Homo sapiens: one gene and its partners. The protein of the gene in region 3 binds, or shares a complex with, the protein of the main gene of each other region. Each region holds a gene or a part of one and is shown on either strand. Other genes may lie near its edges.

The links.
Region 1: TAF5 (region 3) and TAF1 share a complex: the UniProt entries of both Homo sapiens proteins name them as parts of the TFIID basal transcription factor complex.
Region 2: TAF5 (region 3) and TAF6 share a complex: the UniProt entries of both Homo sapiens proteins name them as parts of the TFIID basal transcription factor complex.
Region 4: TAF5 (region 3) and TAF11 share a complex: the UniProt entries of both Homo sapiens proteins name them as parts of the TFIID basal transcription factor complex.
Region 5: TAF5 (region 3) and TADA3 share a complex: the UniProt entries of both Homo sapiens proteins name them as parts of the TFTC-HAT complex.

What each region holds. Positions count from the first base shown.
Region 1 is NC_000023.11:71,372,857-71,377,168, reverse strand, and holds part of TAF1 (transcription initiation factor TFIID subunit 1), read right to left. Parts: intron 2,003-4,312; coding exon 1,883-2,002; intron 220-1,882; coding exon 1-219. UniProt on the Homo sapiens protein: The TFIID basal transcription factor complex plays a major role in the initiation of RNA polymerase II (Pol II)-dependent transcription.
Region 2 is NC_000007.14:100,107,021-100,113,120, forward strand, and holds the end of TAF6 (transcription initiation factor TFIID subunit 6), read right to left. Parts: intron 5,898-6,100; coding exon 5,778-5,897; intron 5,234-5,777; coding exon 5,088-5,233; intron 4,980-5,087; coding exon 4,902-4,979; intron 4,810-4,901; coding exon 4,708-4,809; intron 4,302-4,707; coding exon 4,119-4,301; intron 3,255-4,118; coding exon 3,180-3,254; intron 3,054-3,179; coding exon 2,928-3,053; intron 2,020-2,927; exon of another isoform or gene 1,521-2,019; coding exon 1,347-1,520; exon of another isoform or gene 1,104-1,346; coding exon 906-1,103; exon of another isoform or gene 604-905; coding exon 226-603; 3' UTR 50-225; downstream 1-49. UniProt on the Homo sapiens protein: The TFIID basal transcription factor complex plays a major role in the initiation of RNA polymerase II (Pol II)-dependent transcription.
Region 3 is NC_000010.11:103,379,863-103,385,962, reverse strand, and holds part of TAF5 (transcription initiation factor TFIID subunit 5), read right to left. Parts: intron 6,080-6,100; coding exon 5,944-6,079; intron 4,243-5,943; coding exon 4,122-4,242; intron 2,726-4,121; coding exon 2,596-2,725; intron 638-2,595; coding exon 473-637; intron 1-472. UniProt on the Homo sapiens protein: The TFIID basal transcription factor complex plays a major role in the initiation of RNA polymerase II (Pol II)-dependent transcription.
Region 4 is NC_000006.12:34,881,543-34,885,042, forward strand, and holds part of TAF11 (transcription initiation factor TFIID subunit 11), read right to left. Parts: exon of another isoform or gene 1,896-3,500; coding exon of another isoform or gene 1,857-1,895; intron 1,539-1,856; coding exon 1,390-1,538; intron 1-1,389. UniProt on the Homo sapiens protein: The TFIID basal transcription factor complex plays a major role in the initiation of RNA polymerase II (Pol II)-dependent transcription.
Region 5 is NC_000003.12:9,781,002-9,787,101, forward strand, and holds part of TADA3 (transcriptional adapter 3), read right to left. Parts: coding exon 6,005-6,100; intron 4,425-6,004; coding exon 4,315-4,424; intron 3,213-4,314; coding exon 3,027-3,212; coding exon of another isoform or gene 3,023-3,026; exon of another isoform or gene 2,125-3,022; intron 2,108-2,124; exon of another isoform or gene 2,011-2,107; coding exon of another isoform or gene 1,980-2,010; exon of another isoform or gene 682-1,979; coding exon of another isoform or gene 512-681; intron 1-511. UniProt on the Homo sapiens protein: Functions as a component of the PCAF complex. The PCAF complex is capable of efficiently acetylating histones in a nucleosomal context. The PCAF complex could be considered as the human version of the yeast SAGA complex.

The DNA of each region.
Region 1 (4,312 bases), on a different chromosome or scaffold from region 3:
AAAGTTCTGTGACACTTGGCAACAGCTTGGTGGCATCATGCTGCATAATCCCAGCCAATGGAAGGGTCAGCTTTCCATCTTCAGATTCTGCCTGTGTTGCTTCCTGAGGTCCCATCTCAGATTCTGAGTCAGAGGAACTACTGAAGTCCACTTTCTCTGAGGCCAAAGAGGAAGGGGCAATGATGGAGGGCAAGATGATGCCTTCTCCATTTTCAGACACTGCAACAAGGAAGAGAAACCCCTTTGGCATGTAACTGTGAACATATTTCCTCGAATTCCGCAAACACCCACTTTAGGCTATACACATGGCTCAATGCCAGGAGATATAGGCCCAAGCACCCAAATCATAATACTAGTATGCAACCCAGAAAACTCATTCTAACTCGTTATCTCCCATCGTCCCCCAACTCACCACGTACCTGGTACCCTAGGGTTGTGATGAGAAAACAAACACTATTACTACATTTACTACTTTCCGATTTTTTGTTGTTTTTTTTTTTTTGAGACAGAGTCTTGCTCTGTCGCACAGGCTGGAGTGCAGTGGTGAGATCTTAGCTCACTGAAACCTCTCTCTCTCGGGTTCAAGTGATTCTCCTGCCTCAACCTCCTGAGTAGCTGGGATTACAGTCATGCGCCACGACAGCTGGCTAAATTTTTGCATTTTTAGTAGAGACGGGGTTTCACCATCTTGGCCAGTCTGGTCTTGAACTCCTGACCTCAAATCATCTGCCTCCACCTCCCAAAGTGCTCGGATTACAGGTGTGAGCCACCACACCTGGCCCTACTTTCTGATAAGTAACCAATATTGTAACCAATGTTGTGACCAATAGCAAAACTATGTAATACTTTATACCACTCAGGTAGTCCTAGTTCAGAGACTCATGAGCTGGAGAATTTTTTTAAGCCCACGGGACAACATTAAGGTTCTTTGGCATAAATAAGATCTATAAAACAAAGTTAACAGCTGACATTTAGCAGACTGTTAAAAGAAATGGCTTAAAACTCCAACAGGAAGAATTTAGGTTAATACAAGCCTCAAAATACAGGAGGTCAAAAACACTGCTCTTCCCCAGTTTTCAAGCCTAGGACAGTTACTGTTATAGGAATAGGTAAGATAAACACTGAAGACTCTACTAGCCTTTGAAATCTCTGAATATCTGGTAGTTGACACTATCTGATTTATCAACATTCCAGGGCACCTTCCTAATTTAACCACTTCATTTAAAATAAAGCCATCTAAACAAGTAGTTTCCAAATACCAGTATACAGATCAGTTGTATCATAAATTACTTAAGAAACTCTTTAAGATTCCCGGGTTCGGCAGGGAGCAGTGGCTCACGCCTGTAATCCCAGCACTTTGGAAGACCAAGGCGAGCGGATCACTTGAGGTCAGGAGTTCCAGCCCCTACTCTGGAGGCTGAGGCATGAGAATCACTTGAACCCGGGAGGCGGAGGTTGCAGTGAGCCAAGATCGTGCTACTGCACTCCAACCTGCACAACACAGCAAGACTCTTTCTCAAAAAAATTTTAATTAATTTAATTAAATTCCTGGACTCTACCCAAGATCTTCTGAATCAGGCTCAAGGGGTGAAAGTCAGGTATTTGTTTTTTTTTTTTAAAGATTCTAAGTGATTCTGATGGGTAGCCAGATTTGAGAACCACTGACTAAACTACTATTTCTTGAGCACATGTTAAAATACTGTTGCCAAATGTTTTAAAAGTAAAACTTCCCTTTAATACTAAAATTTGCGATTGTATGAATTATTTCTAGAAGTTTTGTCCCTTCATATAAGCTTAAGTTTGTCCCTTATGTGTGTGCCACAAGCCTGGACTTAGGAATGAAAACTTGCTCCTCAGACAAAAGTAGACAATCTCTACTTACCACCAGTAATAGAATCCTGGTCCTTATCCTTCTTCATTGGTCCCGGGGGTGGAGGTGGAGGAGGCATCAACTTGCAATCAATGTCTTCACAATCAGCATCATAGTCATCTTCATCATAATCTAATAAAACCAAGAAGGTGATCTCCTCAATATCCAAAATATTATACAACCGCCTTAAGCTTCCTTGCCACTCAATTTTTTTTTTTTTTTTGAGACAGAGTCTTGCTCTGTCGCCCAGGCTGGAGTGCAGCGGTGCAATCTCAGCTGACTGCAACCTCCACCTCCCGAGTTCTCCTGCCTCAGCCTCCTGAGTAGCTGGGATTACAGGAATGTGCCACCACGCCCAGCTAATTTTTGTATTTTTAGTAGAGACGGGGTTTCTCCATGTCGGTCGGGCTGGTCTCGAACTCCTGACCTTGTGATCCACCTGCCTCAGCCTCCCAAAGTACTGGGATTACAGGGCCACTCAATAATTTAAAGCACCACATGAAACACTATGCATATCCCTTAAGAACACACAAGTGAAAAAAGCAAGGTGAGGGCCAGGCATGATGGCTCACGCCTGTAATCCCAGCACTTTGGGAGGCCAAGATGGGCAGATCACTTGAGCCCAGAATTTCAAGACCAGCCTAAACAACATGGAGAAACCCCATCTCTACAAAAAATACAAAAATTAGCTAGGCGTGGTGGCACACGCCTGTAGTACCAGCTACTCAGGAGGCTGAGGTCGGGAGACAGTTTGAGCCCAGGAGGTCAAGGCTTTGATGAGCAGTAATCGTGTGACAGAGCAAGACCATGCCTCAAAATATTTTACATATCTATCTGAAACATAGCTTTAGCCTTCAGAAAGAGATGACATCACGGTGCAAGTCAATTGCTATAACATATATAATATCTCACACAAGATATGATGGCTGGGCATGGTGGCTCACGCCAGCACTCTGGGAGGCTGAGGCGGGCAGATCACCTGAGGTCAGGAGTTCAGAGACCAGCCTGGCCAACATGACAAAACCCCATCTCTGTCAAAAATACAAAAACTAGCCAGGAGTGGTGGCATGTGCCTGTAATCCCAGCTACTTGGGAGGCTGAGGCACAAGAAGCACTTGAACCGGGAGGTGAAGGTTGCAGTAAGCCGAGATTGCGCCACTGCACTCCAGCCTGGGCGACACAGTGAAACTGTCTCAAAAAAAAAAAAGAAAGAAAGAAAAGAAAAAATCATACAACATATGAAAGCGTTTCCAAGAGCTGCTTGAAACATTTGCTCCTTTCCTGACCATATCTTTTTTAGAATTTTCATACTGGGCCAGGCACAGTGGCTCGCACCTGTAATCCCAGCACTTTGGGAATCTTCTCCCTCTGTCAGTTTCCCTTAAGACTGGTCTTTCATCTCTCAAATGAGAGATGACACACTTTTTCTATCTGTCATCTGCAGTTTATTACTCTTTTCACTGCCCCTTAACCATTGGCATCACTCAAGAATTCGTCCTAAAGACTCTGCTTTTATTCCCCTATACGTTCCCTATTCCCTCTCTCAAGAATCACCTTCACCTAGATTAAACCCAAATCTACATATGCGGCCCTAATTTACCTCCTCTACAACTCCACGACTCTTCTGCTTCCTAAGGAAACTTTCTACTCAGATATTTAACAGCTGTACCTTATAAAACACTGAAATATCCTTTATCTCTTTTAAATTCCCTATCAACATCACATCCATATGCATTTTCCCAGCTTATGGCTTTAGTCCACTGTCTCCTTCATCAATCTCATAACCCCCAATATACATTTATCCAATTGATCATTACAAATAGTAAGTATAGGGCCAGTGAGGTGGCTCACACCTGTAATCCCAGCACTTTGGGAGGCTGAGGCGAGCGGATTGCCTGAGCTCAGGAGTTCAAGACCAGCCTAGGCAACATGGTGCAACTCAGTCTCCACTAAAATTCAAAAAATTAGCTGGGAGAGGTGGCACGGGCCTGTAGTCCCAGCTACTCAGGAGGCTGAGGCAGGAGAAATGCTTGAACCGGGGAGGCAGAGGTTACAGTGAACCGAGATTGCGCCACTGCACTCCAGCCTGGGCAACACAGTAAGATTCTGTCTCAAAAAAAAAAAAAAAAAAGTGGCCAGGCACAGAGGCTCACGCCTGTAATCCCAGCACTTTGGGAGGCTGAGGTGGGTGGATCACGAGGTCAGGAGATCGAGACCACCCTGGCTAACACTGTGAAACCCCGTCTCTACTAAAAATACAAAAAATTAGCCTGGCCTGGTGGTGGGTGCCTGTAGTCCCAGCTACTCCGGAGACTGAGGCCGGATAATGGCGTAAACCTGGGAGGCGGAGCTTGCAGTGAGCTGAGATCGCGCCACTGCACTCCAGCCTGGGTGACAGAGCGAGACTCTGTCTCAAACAAACAAACAAAAAAGTAAGTATAG
Region 2 (6,100 bases), on a different chromosome or scaffold from region 3:
ATGGGCCCAGCCTTTCTGTGGTATCTGATGCAGGAAGGACTGCAGTGGATCAGAACTTACAAACCAAACTTTTATTCTGAGAAACTGGCTGTACAATATCTAAAAAGAAAGTGACATGAAGGAAGCAATCTACAACTTCCTTCCGCTTAGCGAGCATGCATGTGTGTACGTGCACGTGTGTACATGTCTGCATGTGTGGGAATCCGGGGGCTGGCAGGTGGAGCATCACGGAGCAGGCTGAGGGGAGCCGGAGTTGGGCTGGGAGCCATTGGCTTTTGGAGTCCCTGGAGCTGGAGGGGGACTGTCCCCAGCCTCCTGCTTCCCCCCACAAAGGGCACTGCCGCTGAGTGGGGACGGGGACGATGCCGGGGGAGGAACTGGAGAAGGATGGGAGGTGGGGCCTCCTTTGCCCTCCCCTGTTGGGGGAAGTGAGACCACGATGTACTTCTGGACACTCCCAGGACCAGAGGGAGCAGTGCTGGGGGGTGCGGTGGTGGCGGTGGAGACCAACTTGACGATGGGCTGCACGCTGGGGACGGTGGTGGTGACGGGCGAAGTGGTGGTGGAACCTGAGCCGGGGGCCGAGGTGCTGAGGGACAGGACCTGGATAGAAAGGAAAGGCAGGCCGCTTGCCCTGTGCCCTCCCTGCCCCCCAGAGGCCTGGCGAGGACGCTTCACTCGCTCCCTGCCTGAACAAGTTGTTCCTGTAGTTCACCCTGTAGACAGCTATGGCTGGAGACCTTGTTCATGCAGGGCAGCTACAGCCCTGCAGGACCCTGGTGGGCGCCTCTTCCAGCTCTTGACTTGGGGCCCAGAGGGGACTGTGCTCTACTCCTGGGCCTCCCCAGGGTGCTCTGAGGTAACCCAGGCCCTCCAGATGCTCCCTGTCCCACAGCTCTGCATACCTGCTGGGTGGATGGGGCGCTGGAGGACGATGACATTACAATAAACTTGGTTGGAGGAGGGGAAGGCTGTGGTGGGGCAGCCGCTCGTGCAGACACCAGTGTCTGGACAGGAAGTGCGATGGAGCCAGGAACCTTCAGCAAGCCAGGGGTGCGAGGGCCAGGCTGTGGGGCCTGCGAGAGGGTCAGCGTGGGCCGGGGCTGCGGGGAGAAGAGGAAAGGGGGAAGTGGCACCATCTACTAAGAAGAGGAGTCTGAAGGGAGAGGCCTGGGCTCCCCTCGCTCTTCCTCAGTGGCTCTCACTAGGGCTGGGGCATCCTCACTCAGGGCCTGGTTGCCCTGAGACTACTGACTGAGGGCACATGTGGCTGTGTGCAAGTGCCTGTCCCACACAGGGGTTCTCCTCTGCTTCCTCCTATTCCTCCTCCCCACCCGGCCACGGACCTGCGTGATGGTCAGAGTGGTCCTGTTGACCTGCTGAGCCTGCAGAGCAGCCTGGGCCCGAGCCTTGACCACCTGGGAGCAGAGGAGGGGCCCAAGGGACCCGAATTCTGCCCGATAGGCGTCCTGATTGTCAGGCGGTGGGCGCAGCTTTGCCAGAACAGGAGCACAGTGTTTCTGCAGAACAGAAAAAAAGCCAGGTAGAGGGAGGGCTGGGGAAAAAAGCCAGGTAGAGGGAGGGCTGGTGACACTCTTGAGAAGAACCTTGGGGATGGGGTAAAAAAGGACATTCCTTATCATCTCAGTGCCCCTGTTGAAGGCCAAATTATGCTGAACTATTAGTGTGTGTACAGAACACTGTGGGCTTTCTCATAAGAAAAGATGGGCACGGGGCCAGGTGCAGCATCTTAGGCCTGTATCCCAGCACTTGGGAGGCTGAGGTGGGTGGATCACTTGAGGTCAAGAGCCTGGCCAAAATGGAGAAACCTCATCTCCACTAAAAATACAAAAACTAGCCAGGCATGGTGGCACGCACCTGTAGTCCCAGCTACTGGGGAGGTTGAGGTACTAGAATGCTTGAACCCAGGTGGTGGAGGCTGCAGTGAGCAGAGGTTGCATCAGTGCACTCCCGCTTGGGTGACAGAGTGAGACTGTCTCAGAAAAAAAAAAAAAAGAATGGCTGGGTGTGGTGGTTCATGCCTGTAATCCCAGCACTTTGGGAGGCTGAGGCTGGCAGATCACCTGAGGTCAGGAGCTCAAGACCAGCCTGGCCAATATGGTGAAACCCCGTCTCTACTAAAAATACAAAAAATTAGCCAGGCATGGTGGCGCGTGCCTGTGGTCCCAGCTACTTGGGAGGCTGAGGCATGAGAATTGCTTGAACCTGAGAGGCAGAGGTTGCAGTGAGCCTGAGATCGCACCACTGCACTCCAGCCTGGGTTACAGAGTGAGACTCCATCTCAAAAAAAAAAAAAGAAAAGAAAAAGAAAACATGGGCACTAATGTGTGAATGAACTTGCTAAATACTGTGGCAGGATGGTTAATCAAGAGCGCATTTGCCTTGTACAGAGAAGACCACAGAGTAACAGGAGCATTGGGGAAGGATGGTCCAAATGCCACAGGCTGAGCGTGTTAAACCCTTCTTTTTTGGGGGGCGGTGGTCTCCCTCTGTAACCCAGGCTGGAGTGCAGTGGCACGATCATAGCTCTCTGTAGCCTTGAACTCCTGGGTTCAAGCAATCCTCCCACCTCGGCCTCCCTAGTAGCTGGGACCACAGACACGTCACCACTCCCGGCTTTTTGGTTTTTTTTTTTGCAGGTGGGATCTCGCTACGTTGTCCAGGCTGGCCTCATACTCCTAGGCTCCCAGAGTGCTGGGATTACAGGCAGAAGCCATCATGCCCAGCCCCCTTATTTCTTACTCAGTCTAATCTCAGTCTTTCCATCTGTAAAATAGTATCAGACTCTGCAATGTCCTCTGAAAACATGAGGCAAAGATGGGAGTAAGTGAATAAAATATGCCATATGCTTGCTAAACACTGCCTGTGTCTCAGTGGGCAGGTGTGGGGACAGGGGCTTCAGTCACCAGCAGGAGGCTCTGCACATGGTCTGCTCCAATCCGGTCAATGTTGCTCAGCACAGGGCCGTCCAGCACACTGCGGATCCGCTCCCCTTCCTGCTGCAGCCGGGGCAGAATCAGAGTCTTGATAACCTGTTAGAAGGGAAAAGGACAAGCAAAAGCCGGAGGGTCACCAGGGTCTCCCAGATGGGGGTACAGTGCCCTCTATAACCTCATGACTGTGTCCCCTCCCCCATTTCTTCCTCCCAGAGGCCTAACATCGTGTCCCAGCTCAGCCAAGCCTGCGATGGAGCCATAACGAGTCGTCCAGGGCGTCTTCTCGTCCACCCAGCTCTGTAAGGGGAAGGAAATAAACTAAGATGAAGGGGTCTGAAAGGATGATTGACAGGGACCTAAGTCTTTCATAGACACTTTCCTTGTAAATCATTAAGACATTACAATGAGGCCAGACGTGGTGGCTCACACCTGTAATCCCAGCACTTTGGGAGGCCGAGGCAGGCAGATCACCTGAGGTCAGGAGTTCCAGACCACCCTAGTCAACATGGTGAAACTCTGTCTCTACTAAAAATACAAAAATTAGCCAGTTGTGGCCAGGTGCAGTGGCTCATACCCGTAATCCCAGCACTTTGGGAGGCCAAGGCAGGCAGATCACCTGAGGTCGGGAGTTCTAGAGCAGCCTGACCAACATGGAGAAACCCCGTCTCTACTAAAAACACAAAATTAGCTGGGTGTGGCGGCACATGCCTGTAATCCCAGCTACTCGGGAGGCTGAGGCAGGAGAATCATTGGAACCCAGGAGGCGGAGGTTGTGGTAAGCCAAGATTGCACCATTGCACTCCAGCCTGGGCAAGAAGAGCGAAACTCCATCTCAAAAAAACAAAAACAAAAAAATTAGCCAGTTGTGGTGGCAGGTGCCTGTAATCCCAAGTACTCAAGAGTCTGAGGGAGAAGAATCGCTTGAACCCAGGAGGCAGAGGGTGCGGTCAGCAGAGATTGCACCACTGCACTCCAGCCTGGGCAAGAGCGAGACTCCATCTCAAAAAAAAAAAAAAAAGGTATTACAGACAAGCCTCAAGACCCTTAGACCCCCACAAGTTCCAGTCCCTCTTCCCTCTGCCCCCTTGTTTCCAGTGTGACTTCCCCCAACCAGAGGTGGCCAGTGATGAAGCAAATGACGCTCAAGTTTTCCTGGCTCACCTTGGTGAAGGTCTTGGTGATCCGGGACTGGATGTTGTTAGTGGTTGTGCTAAAATGCTTGCAGATCTGGGCCACCAGGCGGGCAGCAAAGTCTCGGAGTGCCCAGTGATTGTCCACATCTGGTCGCAGGCACAACTGTCTGCTCACGATGCAGGTCATCACAGCTGGAATCAGCTCATGGACCTAAGGGAGAAAGGGCGGGACAGCTGATTCTGGTTTTGTTTGTCTGCTTGAGATAAAGTCTTGCTCTGTCACCCAGGCTGGTGTGCAGGGACACAATCATGGCTAACTGCAGCATCAATCTCCCGGGCTCAAGCAATTCTCCCATCTCAGCCTCCCAGGTAGCTGGGGCCACAGGTGTGCACCACCATGCCTGGCTAATTTTGTTTTGGTTAATTTTTTTTGTAGAGATAGCAGTCTCACTACTGTCCTCAGGCTGTCCTCAAACTCCTGAGCTCAAGCAATCCTCCCACTTCGGCCTCCCAAAGTTGCTGGGATTTCAGGTGTGAGCCACTGCTGACCACTGACTTCCTGTTGGTGGCAGCAGGGTCCCTAGTCCCTGGAAGGGAGGATGGGCAGGATCACTCACGTATTTTTCTAGATAGAGCGTGGGGTTGTCCATCAGCGCTTTCACCATACGCATCAGGTAGATGAGTAGGGCCAGGTTGTTCTGAACCACGTTCACACGGACCTGTGGGAGGGAGAAGTGCTGGGCATGGGGCAGGGAGACCCTCACAGGAGCTTCCACTGCCGTCCCTGCACTGTGGAACCTCATGCTCTCACCCCCTCCGAGATAAAGGTACTGAACCGTGGCAGCATCTGATACAGTCCAGGGTCCGTGGCAATGCTTTGCAGGGCTTCCTGTGGGAGGAGGGAAGCCAGTCAGGTGGGGGTGGGATGTGGGGAGCAATTCATAGGGCCCCCAGGAGGAGGCGTCTCAGGGCCAGGGCAAGCTGGTGGGGCCCTCACCGCCCTCTTGGCCTCGCAGGAGCCCACGCAGGCCTCGGTGATCTCCTTGTAGTAGAGCTGCTGCTCCACAGACAACTCGTGGATGCTCCGGGGCTTCAGTCGCAAGGGGGCCCCCTCCAGCAAGGGCGGCGCCTTCTTCTCTTTCCCTGTGTGATTGGAAAGGTGGGTCTGACAAAGAAAGCTCCAGAAGAAACCTCAGTAACAGAAGAACCTTAACCCTCCACTTCCCCTGAGACCCAGGAGACCTGGCTTCTTCTTAGGCTCCCCCATCCTTTCTGGGGCTCTGGCCCTGACCTCAGCCACTTCACCAATGGCCACATGGAGGCCTGGCATGGTGGCTCACACCTGTAATCCCAGCACTTTGGGAGGCCAAGGCGGGCGGATCACATGAGGCTGAGTTTGAAACCAGCCTGGCCAACATAGCAAAACCCTGTCTCTACTAAAAAAAATTACAAAAATTAGCCGGGCGTGGTGGTGGGCACCTGTAAGCCCAGCTACTCAGGAGGCTGAGGCAGGAGAATCGCTTGAACCCTGGAGGTGGAGGTTGCAGTGAGCTGAGATCGTACCACTACACTCCAGCCTGGGTGACAGAGTGAGACTCTGTCTCAAAAACAAAAAAAAAGGAAACAAAACAAACGGCCATGTGGCTTTGGGCAAGAGTCCAGAGAGGCCTAGCCTAGGAGGACTGACCTTTGCCGTCGGCTGTGGTGGCCCCTTGACCTTTGCCCTTCAGGGGTCCGTCTTCCTCCTGGCCTGGCTTGGCTGACTTCAGGGGTTCTGTGGCTTCAGCCTTCTGTTGCTCTTTGGGAGCTGGTGGGAAAGCAGGCACAGCGGGAGGGGTGATGAGCATAGTAGAAAAGTAAAAGGTGGGAGGAGGCCGGATGCGGTGGCTCATGCCTGTAATCCCAGCACTTTGGGAGGCCAAGGCGGGTGGATCACCTCAGGTCAGAAGTTCGAGACCAGCCTGGCCAACATGGTGAAACCTCGTGTCTACTAAAATTACAAAAAATTAG
Region 3 (6,100 bases):
AATTTCTTTTCTTTTTTTTTTTTTTTTTTTTTTTTTTGAGATGAAGTCTCGCTCTTGTCCCCTAGGCTGGAGTGCAATGGTGCGATCTCGGCTCACTGCAACCTCCGCCTCTCAGGTTCAAATGATTCTCCTGCCTCAGCCTCCTGAATAGCTGGGATTACAGGTGCCTACCACCACGCCCGGCTAATTTTTGTATTTTTAGTAGAGACGGGGTTCCACCATGTTGGCCAGGCTGGTCTCAAACTCTTGACCTCAGGTGATCCATCCACCTCGGCCTCCCAAAGTGCTGGGATTACAGGCATAAGCCACTGCGCCCGGCCCCAATTTCAAATAAGTTATAAATGCAAAAGCTTCTCAGAAAGTTGAACCTCAATAATGGAAGTGTAAATGAATTTGGCTGGCTGTGTAATTCCCAACAAGAAACCATTCTGTTCATTGAATAGACCCAGTCATAAGATCACAGTGTTCTTACCGAGCTACTCGGTCATGGCCCCCTGACACAAAATAATATCCATATGGAGAAAATTGTGTGTCCCATACTGGATAGTTGTGTCCTTTATATCCCACCAAACAAGTAAATGTTTGAAGGCTCCACAATCTAACAGTTCCGTCCTCTGAAGAGGAAAGCAGATAGTTCCTGAGAGAAGAGAAGGTGATATATTTGACTCCCAGAGTAACCTTTGGTCACCTGCCCAGTTTTATATACATTTGAATACATTTAATATTTTATATATATTTGACTATATTAAATATACCTAACATGCTGCATCTCACTTTTAATTCATACACGCAATTCACAGTAGGTATCAATTGAAAGAACTAACCAAACTAATGTTAACCCTGACACTCTACATATACCGAGCACCTACTGAATGAGGTAATATGATACAAAAACTTAGGGAAAATCAGAGTTCTTTACAAGAAAAAAATAGCAGGGGTAATTAACAAAGTATAGTCAAATAAGGTCAATTGAGAAAGTTTAAGAAATGTGATATGTCACTTAAAACTCAACAATTTTTGACCCTAAAATAAAGATGCTATTTTCCCATGCTGTGTAAGCTATGTAAGAATTAAAAAGGAAATGTCTTTTGAAGAAAAAGAAAAAAAAACTACAGACATGCTAATAATTCTCTACCTTTTTCAAGCATAAACACAAAAGATTGATAGTCAGAAGGTTATTACAATTTTCACTGAAATCAGACGTTTCCCTCAAAAATGTATCATCTGGCAAAACCTTATCAAGCAACAAAAAACCTAATTCTCAAAGTTTCGTAATGATGAAACCTTGATGGATGGAAAGCTATTATCTTTTTTTCTTTTCTTCTTTTTTTGAGATGGAGTTTTGCTCTTATCACCCAGGCTGGAGTGCAGTGGTGCAATCTCGGCTCATTGCAACCTCTGCCTCCCATGTTCAAGTGACTTTCCTGCCTCGGCCTCCCAAGTAGCCAGGATTACAGGTGGGCGCCACCACACCCTGCTAATTTTTGTACTTTTTAGTGGAGACAGGATTTCCCATGTTGGCCAGGCTGGTCTCAAACTCCTGATCTCAGGTGATGCGCCTGTCTTGGACTCCCAAAGTGCTGGGATTATAGGCGTGAGCCACTGTGCCCGGCCTGAAAGCTATTATCTATCCAAGTAATATACTGATGGTATTATGAATACAAAACACCCTCCACCCATTTTTACAGTGTTAGAGATCATGAAAAATAGGCAAATACCTATACACATAGGATGACATTGTAATCATACACCTAAAGGGAAGCAAACCAATTTTGAATTTCCTTTTTCATTTACTCTTAGTACTTTTGATTATAGAAAGATTAATCCTCAATTACTAGCTAATATGCCATTAATGTCAGGAATTTGTCTTAAATTTGATGAAGCAGCCAGAAGACACAATGCAGGGACCCAATGAAGCAATTCAACCCCTAATGGAGTTCTATAAAACTAAAGCTTTGGTTGGTTATTTACCATTGGGTAACAAATAAAAATAATTAAAAAAAAAAAAGGGAAATACTAAAGCTAATTTTTAAAACCAGTAAGCCCTGAAACTGTGCATTTTGATTCTATAAATTTGAGTATACAGGCCAGGCACAGTGGCTCACGCCTGTAATCCCAGCACTTTGGGAGGCTGAGGTGGGCAGATCACCTGAGGTTGAGAGTTCAAGACCAGCCTGACCAACATGGAGAAACCCCATCTCTAATAAAAAAATAAAATTAGCCAGGTGTGGTGGCGCATGCCTGTAATCCCAGCTACTCAGGAGGCTGAGCCAGGAGAATCGCTTGAACCCAGGAGGCGGAGGTTGCGGTAAGCCAAGATCACGCCATTGCACTCCAACCTGGGCAACAAGAGCGAAACTCTGTCTCAAAAAAAAAAAAAAAAAAGTGAGTATACATTAAATTGCTACCATGTACAAACACCAGGATTCAAAGATGAATTAGCAAATGGCAAGATTCTAAAAGATGATGAACGTCAGACAACCATGAGATTTTTATCAGAATTTTCCCAGCATTTGCATAATGTTTCCAGTAGTTAACTTTTATATAATTTCAATATAACATAGCAGTATTTAATTTTTATTGTTTGTATTTTACCTATCCGGACTGAAGCTGGCTCCGTAGACAGGCCCACTGTGACCATACAAAATCTTCAACTCACTTGCTGTTTTCTCATCCATGATTCTTTCTAAGACATCATCTGATTCTTTGTCTATAAGACTAAGATCTAAAATGGTCCAGAAATATTGATATTTTATAAGTACATTCATCAAAACTTTTAAAGTAATCATATCACAGTGCAGGAGAGGAATTAACATTTGAAAATTTCCTCCTATATACCAACCGCACTTTGCTAATCCCTCTAAATTAGGCAGTATCATCTCAGCGTGTAAGAGAAGAAAATGACGTTCAGAACAGATAATTTGCTAGAGTGCACACAGCTACTCAGTGTGGGAACCAGAACTGAAACTCAGTTTTGCCCACTATGCCACAGTGTTTCACAAAATGAAAACTATGGGCCAGGCATGGTGGCTCACACCTGTAGTCTCAGAATTTTGGTAGGCCAAGGCGGGCAGATTGCTTGAGCCCAGAGGAGTTCGAGACCAGCCTGGACAACATGGAGAAACCCTGTCTCTACAAAAAATAAAAAATTAGCCAGTGTGGTTGCACACACCTGTAGTCTCAGCTACTCAGGAGGCTGAAGTGGGAGGATCACTTCAGCCCAGGGATTAGAGGCTGCAGTGAGCCGTGATCACACCACTGCATTCTAGCCTGGGCAACAGAGTGAGACCCCATCTAAAAAAAATTTAAAATTAAAAAAAAAAAACCTATGGAAATATTGAAATAATTTAAAATATATTGTTTTATTTAAATAATATAGTTAGTAAAAAACTTTATTTCAGGCCGGGTGTGGAGGCAGGAAAATCGCTTGAACCAGGGAGGTGGAGGTTGCAGTGAGCCACCTATAATTCCAGCACTTTGGGAGGCCAGACAGGCGGATCACTTGAGGTCAGGAGTTCGAGACCAGCCTGGCCAACATGGCGAAACCCTATCTCTACTAAAAATACAAAAATTACCTGGGCATGGTGGTGGGCACCTGTAATCCCAGCTACTGGGGAGCTGGGGAGCTGACACAAGAAAATCCCTTGAACCTGGGAGGTAGAGGCTGTAGTGAGCCAAGACTGCGCCATTGCACTCTAGCCTGGGTGACAGGGCGAGACTCTGTCTCAAAAAAACAAAAAGTAAAAAACTTTCAAATAAAATCCTGACCTTATTTGTTCTTTTTAGCCATTTTTATGACTAAAACAGGAAGTACCATCCCTTATTTAAAGATTTTTTAAGATTTACAAGCAATCATAAAATGTTAGATTTTTAACTTTAAGTTTTTTAGCTTAATACTCACTCATTCTACAGATGAGAAAACTGAGACCTAAAGAAATTAAACCAGTCTAGCACCCCAGTCACTCCAAAGCTTTTTTCACTGTTGGGAATGTTAGAATCTTGAGTTAAAGTAAAATCAAGTGAATTTCTGTAAAGAACACAATCTCCTGTGTATTTTCCATGGAATCAAGATTGGTATAGACTAATGGCAAGTTCACATTCCAAAAGGTCATCTCAGTTACCTGATGCTTGTTTGACACTACGAAGCTTTTTGGGTGTTACCGACCACACTCTGACAGTTGAATCTGCAAAACCTCCAGCAATCAGACTAGAATCATCAGTGACATCCACTGCAGTGAGACCCTGCCAATAAAAGGGTTAGACTAAACAATACTATTTTAGGATATTTAGAGATAGGAAGCAAATGTTAATCATTTTCACACTATACTAAATATCTCCTCAATCCTCTATTTTAAGGAATATATAAAGACTTTTAAAATTCTTGATTTAAAATATTGGCCAAGCGCACTGGCTCATGCCTGTAATCCCAACAATTTGGGAGGCTGAGACAGGTGGATCACCTGAGGTTAGGAGTTCAAGACCAGCCTGGCCAACATGGTGAAACCCCATCTCTACTAAAAATACCAAAATTAGCCAAGCAGGGTGGTGGGCACCTGTAATCCCATCTACTTGTGAGGCTGACGCAAGAGAATCACTTGAACCCAGGAGGCAGAGGTTGCAGTGAGCCAAAATCGTGCCACTGCACTCCAGCCTGGGCGACAGAGTGAGACTCCATCTCAAAAAAAAAATAATAATAAAATAAAATACTAAGTTTGGCCGGGCGCGGGGGTTCATGCCTGTTATCACAGCACTTTAGGAGGCTGAGGCGGGTGGATTGCCTGAGCTCAGGAATTCAAGTCCAGCCTGGTCAACCTGGTGAAACCCCTTCTCTACTGAAAATACAAAAATTAGCTGGGCGTGGTGGCTCATGCCTATAATCCCAGCTACTCAGGAGGCTGAGGCAGGAGAATCACTTGAACTGGGAGGCGGAGGTTGCAGTGAGCCAAAATTGCACCACCGCACTCCAGCCTAGGTGTCAGAGCAAGACTCCATCTCAAAAAATGAAATTAAATTAAAATAATAAAATAAAATAAGGTTTATATGGCTGGGCACGGTGGCTCACGCCTGTAATCCCAGCACTTTGGGAGGCTGAGGCGGCCAGATCACTTGAGGTCAGGAGTTCAAGACCAGCCTGGGCAACACGGCAAAATCCTGTCTCTACTAAAAATACAAAAATTAGCCAGGCATGGTGGAGGGTGCCTGTAATCCCAGCTATTCAGGAGGCCGAGGCTGAGGCACAAGAATCGTTTGAACCCGGGAGGCAGAGGTTGCAGTGAGCTGAGATCTCACCTCTGCACTCCACCCTAGGTGACAGCACAAAACTCTGTCTCAAAAAAAAAAAAAAATTGATAAATAAGTTTACGTAAGTACTTAAACCAAGTTCAACAGAAATGAACTACAATTTGCTCCTCCTCAAAGGCTAGCAGAATTCTGATCGGTGAAACAAATGCCATTAAACATTGACTTCTATCTATTCTGTGCAGTATCCAATTCTCTCTTCCTGAATGCTGTCTTTAAATTGTATAAGAGTTTAGGGGCCACATGCGGTGGCTCATGCCTGTAATCCCAGCACTTTGGGAGGCTGAGGCAGGCGGATCACAAGGTCAGGAGATCGAGACCATCCTGGCTAACACGGTGAAACCCCATCTCTACTAAAAATACAAAAAATTAGCCGGGCATGGCGGTATGCGCCTGTAGTCCCAGCTGCTGGGGAAGCTGAGGCAGAAGAATGGCATGAACCTGGGAGGCGGACATTGCAGTGAGCTGAGATCGCGCCACTGCACTCCAGCTGGGCGACAGAGCGAGACTCTGTCTCAGAAAAAAAAAAAAAAGGAGTTTAAATAACGAAACTCCATTTTAGCTAATACATTTGTTTCTCTCTTAATGGTAAATCATCATCCTACATGACTCTCCAGGCAGAAATCGCCCAATTTTTTTACCAACCTGGTAAGCATTGAGAAATGTATAGAAACAAATGGAGGGTAAGCAGTCCGGCCCAAGGCGCACTCGTTTGGTGGTTTCTTTCATATTCATTATCTTATCCAACTTATCTGAATCTTTCAACTCAGGAAGAGGGATTCTGTGAAAGAAAAAGAGAGTC
Region 4 (3,500 bases), on a different chromosome or scaffold from region 3:
GGAAAACATTCACCATATCTAATGTGAAAAATAGGCTACAAAACAGTATTTGACATTTGTGGAAAAAAAAATTTATAGATATATATGTATAGAAACTATCTTGAAACTTATAAGCAGGATATATCTCTGTGGTAAGGTAATTATTTTTTCTTCTTATCTATTTATTTTTTTTGAGACAGCATCTGGCTCTATCGCCCAGGCTGGAGTGCAGTGGCGCAGTCTTGGCTCACTGCAACCTCTGCCTCCTGGGTTCAAGTAATTCTCCTACCTCAGCCTCCCGAGTAGCTGGGACTACAGGCACCCACCACGACACCTGGCTAATTTTTTGTAATTTTAGTAGAGACGGGGTTTCACCATGTTGGCCAGGCTGGTCTCAAACTCCTGACCTCAAGTGATCCACCCGCCTCAGCCTCCCAAAGTGCTGGGATTACAGGTGTGAGCCACCGATCTCGGCCTTCTTTTTATCTATTTATATTTTCTATGCTGTAACATAATTATTTGAAAAAATTGTTTTTGGCCAGGCACAGTGGCTCACACCTGTAATCCCAGCATTTTGGGAGGCTGAGGCGGGCGGATCACGAAGTCAGGAGTTCGAGACCCGCCTGGCCAACATGGCAAAAACCTGTATCTACTAAAAATACAAAAATTAGCCAGGCATGGTGGCAGGAGCCTGTAGTCCCAGCTACCTGGGAGGCTGAGGCAGGAGAATCGCTCGAAACCAGAAGGCGGAGGTTGCAGTGAGCAGAGATTGCACCACCGCACTCCAGCCTGAGCAACGAGAGCGAAACTCTGTCTCAAAAAAAAAAAATTTTAAATAGAGGCCGGGCACAGTGGCTCATGCCTGTAATCCTAGCACTTTGGGAGGCCGAGGCGGGCAGATCACGTGAGGTCATGAGTTCAAGACCAGCCTGGCCAACATAGTGAAACCCTGTCTCTACTAAAAATACAAAAATTAGCTGGGCATGGCGGTGCATGCCTGTAGTCCCAGCTACTCGGGAGGCTGAGGCATGAGAATCGTTTGAACTCAGGATGTGGAGGCTGCAGTGAGCCGAGATCACACCATTGCACTCCAGCCTGGGCGACACAGTGAGACTCTATCTCAAAAAAATAAAAAATAAAAAAAAAAACATAACATAACATAACATTAGAGAAAGGGTTTCACTATGTTGCCCAGGCTGGTCTCAAACTTAGGCCTCAAGAAATCCTCCCACCTTGGCCTTCTAAAGTGTTGGGATTACAGGCGTGAGCCACCATGCCCAGCCATAATGTATTAATCGTTTTATTTTCTTTTGAGTTTATAAAAGAAAATTTAAACACCAAGAAAAATTTATTAAATTTGTGTGGTCAAGTGAGAGCCTCGAAATGGGGAATGATAAGAAAGTGACTTACTGCATCTTCTGAATCTCATCTTCATCTACTTTCTGCTTTTTCTCTTTCTTTTCTTTGGTATCTATTTTCAGTTTTTTGGCTGCAGGATTAAGTAATGATGAGTCTTCCCTTTCAACTGTTGTTAAATCTGAGACATCCTGACTCTCGAGCTGGGAAGATGAAAGAAACTCTATTATATATTTGGCCTACTTTCCAGGCTTGGGCAAAGTAAGAAGACATCATCCTTATCACAAAACAACAAATCCATTTATTGAGTAGTTTTTCAGTTCTAGGCACTGACTGTACCATCAAGGATAAGATACAGTATCTCTCCTAAGGGAAGATTATGGCTCAGCTATGGAAAGAAAACCTGCTAAATAATCTAGTTTTCCAGTTTGGCTATGAGCACAGCTCCAGTATCTGTTTACAAGGGTAATGAAATGCCATGGATCATGAAAATCACCCTCCCCCGGGCCCACTCTTCTGACCTTATTTTTCAGAGGGGATGTCAGCAAAGTCCCCTCCATCCAGCCAGCTCTTCTGCTTCCAGATCTATAGATCTCTTTACTGCTGATGATTCCACATGGAAAGAATATTAAAAAGGAGGCCCCTTCTCATCAAAACAGTGTTTATTTCAATTTGGGACTTTCAAGTGAGCTTCTCACACGTAGTGCTCTTTTGTTCTTATTCTTCAATCCTACTGTTTCATGCAAATGTTTATTTCACATTACTAGTCTTTTTGAAGATAGGTTTGTCTCTTATTATTTATATCTCCCCCCCATCAGCATTTAATGCAATTTTACTTATGCTGGATGTTTAATAAATGCCTGTTCAAACCCCACTTAAAAGTAGGCAAAGACACTTCTCAAAACAAGACATACCTGTGGCCAACAATCATGTGAAAAAAAGGTCAGCTTCACTGATTAGAGAAATGCAAATCAAAACCATAATGAGATACCATCTCATATCAGTCAGAATGGCTATTATTCAAAAGTCAAAAAATAACAGATACTGGCAAGGTTGTGGAGGCAAAGGAAAGCTTTTAAACTCTTGGTTGGAGTATAAATCAGTTCACCATTGAGGAAGGCAGTGTGACAATTCCTCAAAGACCTAAAGACAGAATTACCATTTGACCCAGCAATCCCATTACTGGGTATATACCCAAAGGAATATAAATTGTTCTATTATAAAGACACATCCACACTTATGTTCATTGCAGTGCTATTCACAATAGCAAAGACATGGAATCAACCTAAATGCCCATCAATGGTAGACTGGATAAAGAAAATGTATTTTCCAGTATACACCATGAAATACTATACAGCCATAAAAAAGGAGATCATGTCCTTTGCAGGGACATGGATGGAGCTGGAGACCATTATCTTTAGCAAACTAATGTAGGAACAGAAAACCAAATACTGCATGTTCTCACTAATAAGTGGGAACTAAATGATGACAGCACACGGACACATAGAGGGGAACACACACTGGGGTATATGGAAGGGTGAAGGGTATATGGAAGGATGAAGGGTGGCAGGAGGGAAAGGATCAGGAAAAATAACTAAGGGACACTAGGCTTAATACCTGGGTGATGAAATAATCTATACAACAAACCCCTATGACACACATTTACTTATGTAACAAAACCTGCACATCCTGCACATGTACCCCTGAACTTAAAAAACTGGCTGTTTAATAATAAAAATCAAATCCAAACTTCACCCCCTCTGACTTAATGTAGAATCTTAAGTATACTACAAAACTCATTAATGAGATTTAACTTGTCCCTAAAGAGGAATTCAAATTTAAACTCATACAGGAATATGGGAATAGGTGGGATGAAGGTAGTCTATCTTTGACAATCTTTTCAATTTCTTTTTAGTTACTGATTTATACAAGTTTTCTAACTGTGCTTCAAGTTTGGTGGTTTGTATTTTCCTTTAAAAAATCACCTATTTTTCTCAGATTTTCACATTTATTTGGCCTAAACTTGAACATTAAATGTCTTTATAACTTTAAAGATCTCCATATTAGTGCCTATAGCCTTTCATATTTTGTAATGTTATACATTTACATTTTAAATAATGTTTTAATTTTATCATTTATGTTTTTTAATGTGCTAATTCATTAGT
Region 5 (6,100 bases), on a different chromosome or scaffold from region 3:
GTAGTGCACACCTGTAGTCCCAACTCCAAGGGAGCTGAGGATTGCTTGAGGCCAGGAGTTCAAGGTTACAGTGAACTATGATCATGCCACTACACTCCAGTCTGGGCAACAGAGCGTGACTGTGTCTTCAAAAAAAAAAAGGTCTTAAAAATATACACAGTAGGCTGGGCAAAGTAGCTCATGCCTGTAATCCCAGCGCTTTGGGAGATGGAGGCAGGAAGATCACTTGAAGCCAGGAGTTGAGACCAACCTCGGCAACAGAGTAAGACCCTGTCTCTAAAATATATATATATATACATACACACACACAAACACACACACACAGGCACACCCACTCTCTCTCTCTGTCTTTCAGTTAATCCTAACAACCCTGCAAAATATGTACTATTATTCATATGTTACCCGTGAGGAAAATGAGGCTCAAAGATGATCCCAGGATCCCACAGTTAGTGAGGGGGAGATCTGGAGCAGGCTGGGGCCAAACTCTTGTTTTTAAACACTGTTGTTTCAGGTGTTCCGGTGCCAGCAGAAGGCCTGCTTACGTCGGCATCTGCATTCCAGAGCCCCCTAAGGTCTAGGCAGCCTGAGGCTGACAGGAGGTGGGTGAGACACCAGATCAATCTCTCTGAACAGGGTCTGATTTATACATTTCATCGATGGTGGAGCTGGAAGGTCACTTAGTGATTGAGTCCAGCCTGCCAGTTTTCCAGAAGGGGAAGGAGATGCTCAGGTCAGGGGCTGCTTAAGGCCTTGCAGCTGCTCTGCAGCAGGGTAAGGGCTGTGCTCTGGTTTCCTGAGAGCTGCAAGCCATTTCTTCATTGCCCATTACTTCTTTTTTTTTTTTTTTTTTTTTTTTTGAGACAGGTCTCACTCTGTCACCCAGGCTGGAGTACAGTGGCCTGATCAAGCTCACTGCAGCCTCTACCTCCCAGGATCAAGCAATCCTCCCACATCAGCCTCCTGAGTAGGACTATAGGCATGTGCCACCATGCCTAGCTGATTTTTAAAAATTTTTAGTAGAGAAGGGGGTCTGACTACATTGCCCAGGCTAGTTTCGAACTCCTGAGCTCAAACAAGCCTCCCACCTCAGTCTCCCAAAGTGCTGGGATTACAGGCATGAGCCACCAGGCCCAGCTAGGGCCCACTACTTCTGTAACTGCACATGCCTGCTTTTCTCTCTCTTCCTCTCTCTCCCTCTGCTTCCCTCAGTGCCTCTTCCATCTGTGTTTTCTTCTTCTCACCTTTCAGAGAAAACAAACTATTATAGAAAGAGGCTTTGATTCAACCACAGGTTCAAGTCTCAGCTTGCTGTTTATTGACTGTGTGACCTTCAGCAGAGCATTTCGCTTCACTGGGCCTTTATTTCCTCATCTGGTAAACAACGAAAATAGCTCCTCCCTCCTGGGTTGTTGTCAAGACACTTGAGAGAGTGTACATAAAGCCCCTGACACACAGTAGGCCCTCAGCATACATTAGTCACTCTTATCCTTAAATACCCTGGCAGCTTGTCAGCAACTACCTCTCCTTTTAATGGCACTTATCTTTACTGATCATCTGCTAGTAATCTGCAAGTCCCTTGCTCTGCCTCTCTTGCTGGCCCCCAGCACAATATCTAAGAGACAGTAAGAATGGCCAAATGATTAGCCTGGCATGGTAGTGCATGCCTGTAATCCCAACTACTCAGGAGGCTGAGGCAGGAGAACTGCCTGAACCCGGGAGGCGGAGGTTGCAGTGAGCCGAGATCATGGCACTGCACTCCAGCCTGGGCAACAGAGTGAGACACCGTCTCAAAAAAAAAAAAAAAAGGCCAAATGAATGAATGTGCCCTGTCCTGTCAGGGCTCTATGAAGTTAAGACACAGCACTTGTCTGTGAGAAGCAAAGAGACTTGTTCGGGTTGCTTCCCTATCTCTTTACCTAAAGGGTAGCTATTCCACAGTCTTCCTCAAGATGTCACCTATACCCTCGTGATCAATGCAGAACAAGATGGATGGGAGTTGACATCAAATGAATGGCAGGCACTGTGATGGATTCCCAAAAGAACATGTCCTAAAACACTGGTCAATTTCTTGTGATGAGCAAATAAAAATCACAGATCTCCAACAAAATGTTAACAGTTAATTAGTCTAGGTGGAGAATATACTGATGTTTATTGTATGATTCTTTCAGATTTTCTGTGTGTATCAAATTTTTAATAACAAAACTTTGGGGATAAAAAGAAAAGAAGCATGAAAAGACAAAAAATAAATCACACAACAATGTGAATATGGGTAACACTACTAAACTGTACACTTAAAAATGGTTAAGAAGCGTAAATTTTTTTTCTTTTTTTTTTTGAGATGCAGTTTCACTCTTGTTGCCCAGGCTGGAATGCAATGGTGCAGTCTCAGCTCACTGCAACCTCCGCCTCCCAGGTTCAACTGATTCTCCTGCCTCAGCCTCCCATGGAGATACATTTTATATTATGCCTTTACCATAATTAAAAAACCAAACTAGGCCAGGCGCAGTGGCTCACGCCTGTAATCCCGGCACTTTGGGAGGCCGAGGCGGGTGGATCACGAGGTCAGGAGATCGAGACCATCCTGGCTAACACGGTGAAACCCCGTCTCTACTAAAAATACAAAAAAATTAGCTGGGCGTGGTGGTGGGTGCCTGTAGTATCAGCTACTCAGGAGGCTGAGGCAGGAGAATGGCATGAACCTGGGAGGCGGAGCTTGCAGTGAGCCGAGATCATGCCACTGCACTCCAGCCTGGGTGACAGTGCGAGACTCCCTCTCAAAAAAAAACAAAACAAAAACAAATCAAATCAATCGGTCAGTCACAGATGCCTGAGCCCCACTCTGTGGAATCAGAATTTGTTTGGGACATACCCGGTGGACTGGCCACTGCTGTTTTTTTCGAGGCTCTCCAGGTGATTTAGAGGCCAGCCAGGATTGGAAAGCCTGTTGTAAAACCCCTGAAAGGTGACTAGCCGTGGCCACAGCCTCCAAGGCCACCCCCGGGACTGTGCATCCTGCTAACGCTCACCTCAGCAGGTCGTGCTTCTTGGTGCGGTTGTGGGCACTAAGTGCCTTCAGCTCAGCCTGCCGTTTGCGAAGCTCAGCAAGGACCTCATCCTCGGAGTCCTCTGCGGGGCGGTCCTCAGACTCCAAAAGGCCCTGGGCAATTAGCTCCTCCTTGATGCGGCTCTCCAGGGACTTAGTATGCGGCACACTGCAGCGGGAGGCAGGCCCGTCAGACTCAAGAGCCAGCTTGGAGAAGGGCCCACCTTGGAGGTTCCCAGGGCTTCCCAAGGTCAGTGAAAACCTGCCTTTCCCTTTGGGCACCCCCTCTGTATCTATCCAGATACAAAGGGAGGGACAGACACATCTGGTCTGGTTTTTAAAACAAGCAACGTATGTATCTACTATTCAAAAAATATGGAAAAACCCATAATGCCAACAACCCAGAGAGAATTACTATTATTTTGTTATATATTATTATATATATTCCAGATTTTGTTATATATTATTCCTAATCTTTTGCTACATATTAGTCCAGGTTTTTTCCCTTATGTGCACATATTTAAATATATTGTAAGTAAGCCAGGCATGGTGGCTCACACCTGTAATCCCAGCACTTTGGAAGGCCGAGGTGGGAGGATCACCTGAGGTCAGGAGTTCAAGACCAGCCCGGCCAAGATGGTGAAACCCCGTCTCTACTAAAAATACAAAAATGAGCCATACATGGTGGCAGGCGCCTGTAATCACAGCTACTTGGTGGCTGAGGCAGGAGAATCGCTTGAACCTGGGAGGCGGAGGTTGCAGTGAGCCAAGATTGCGCCATTGCGCTCCAACCTAAACGACAAGAGCGAGACTCCATCTCAAAAAAAAAAAAAGAAAAAGAAAAAAAGAAATATATTTTAAGTAAAAATAGTATTATACCATCCATACTGGGCTACAACTAATATTTTCTCCACTTGTCACTCTATAATTTACATCTTTTCATGTCATTTAACTATATTTCTCTATACTTGCAGCTATATGATTAATAGCCCCAAGTTATTTCATCATATGGAGTTATGCCAATTTAGCCAACCATTCCCCTTCAGCAGGACATTTGGGTTATTTATGGTATGAACAGTTCTGTGCTGAACAACCCTGCACTCAGTCTGTGCATGCAGACACGCTGGGTCATCACTCACACTTGAGACTGCTATTAGGCTTCACCTAACTGCCCCCAGCCTCTTACTGATGAGGACTTCCCCAGGTTGAGATGGAGAGAAGCCAACAGAAGCGGGGGCCAGACTGTGGGTTGTGGATAGGACACCACTCACCTGAAGGGCTTGTTCTGATTGCGAGGGGAGGTGCTTGCCCCGTCAGCCCCTGATTCTTTCCCAGACATGTCAGGAATAGGAGAATCCTCCATAGGGGAAATAATATTTTCCTAGAAGACCACAAAAATGAGTGGAAGGAAAAATAGCTGTTCCACTTTCCTGCTCCTTTCTGACCTACACTGACAGTCTTCAAACACCAGAAATATCCTTTTATCTTTCCCATCCCACCTACCGTGGGAAGCCTTCCCATACCAATCCCAAATTGCTTTGATCATTCTAGAAATCCCTTTTATTTTCGTACTGATGTGAAGAAAAAGGAACACAGAAGAGAAATGATTAACACTCAATGATGGTAATGAACAGCTAAGGTTTGTGAAGCGTCTGCAACGCACCAGGCAGTGTGCTAGGCCTGCTGTGGCGGAGATGCTAGCTGTCCGAATGCCATACTCTTCTTTCCTCCACGGCAGCTAGGCAATGCCTGTCCAGTTGTACTTCCCAGGCTCTCTTGCAGGCGGGTATGGTCATGTGACAAGTTCTCTCCAGGGGAAAGTGATCAGAAGAGATAAGAGCCATAGCTAGGCATGGGCCAAAAAGTTTCCTTCACACACTCCTCCTTGTTTTGTTTTGTTTTTTTTTTTTGAGATGGAGTCTCACTTTGTCACCCAGGCTGTGGAGTGCAGTGGCACAATTTCGGCTTACTGCAAGCTCCGCCTCCTGGGTTCATGCCATTCTCCTGCCTCAGCCTCCCAAGTAGTTGGGACTACAGGCGCCTGCCACTATGCCCGGCTAATTTTTTTGTATTTTTAGTAGAGACGGGGTTTCATCATGTTAGCCAGGATGGTCTCGATCTCCTGACCTTGTGATCCGCCCGCCTCAGCCTCCCAAAGTGCTGGGATTACAGGCGTGAGCCACCGCGCCCGGCCTCCTTGCTCTTATTCTGTGGGACTGGAGTGACAATTACGCCCAGAGTGACCTTGTGCAGACTGCAAGGCCACCGTCAGCTGGGGTCCCTGTCTGATGATATGAGATAGAGACCTGCCCCTTCCCCTACCTTAGATAACCTGCAACATGTACCCAGACTGTTCCATGAGATAAACTCTTGTGTTTGAGCCAGAATAGAAAACTGAGTCTCAATGAGGTGAAAGAGTGTGAGGGTGTGTCTAAGGTCAACCAGCAGGTATAAAGACAGGGCCCCTGAAGCTAGGGTTTGAATCCTGGTGTGTGAGACCTCAAGTGAACAGTTCCCTTTTCTGAGCCTCAATCTTCTTATCTGTAACACAGCGTTAACCACTGTCCTGGCCTCCAGTGGGAGGATGTGTATAAAGCCCCTCCAACAGATGCTTAGCAAAAGTAATTGTGGAGTAAGGCTACCTTTGGGGAAAGTTGGAGAAAAACAGGGGCATGAGAGGGGCTTCTAGGATATAGTAATGTTTCATTTTGTAATCTCCAGGCTGGTAATACAAGCTCATTTGTGAAAACTGTACATTTATGATCTGTGCACTTTTCTATTAGGTGCACAAGTTATATATTATTCCCAATCTTTTGCTATATATTAGTCCAGGTTTTTACTTTTGCACCAACCTATTTTTGCACCAACCTAATAAATGTATGATAAATTCCGATAAAAAATAAGCATAACACATTAAAACACAAAGTAAATATGGTTCCTCTTTTGGGTTAGGCTGCTCACCTCCACCAGGGCCTGCAGGAGGCGCTGCGTCAGGGCACCAAAGGGGCATCCATCTTCCGGCTGTTCATGCTGGGCCTCAGACTTCTTCAGCAGGGC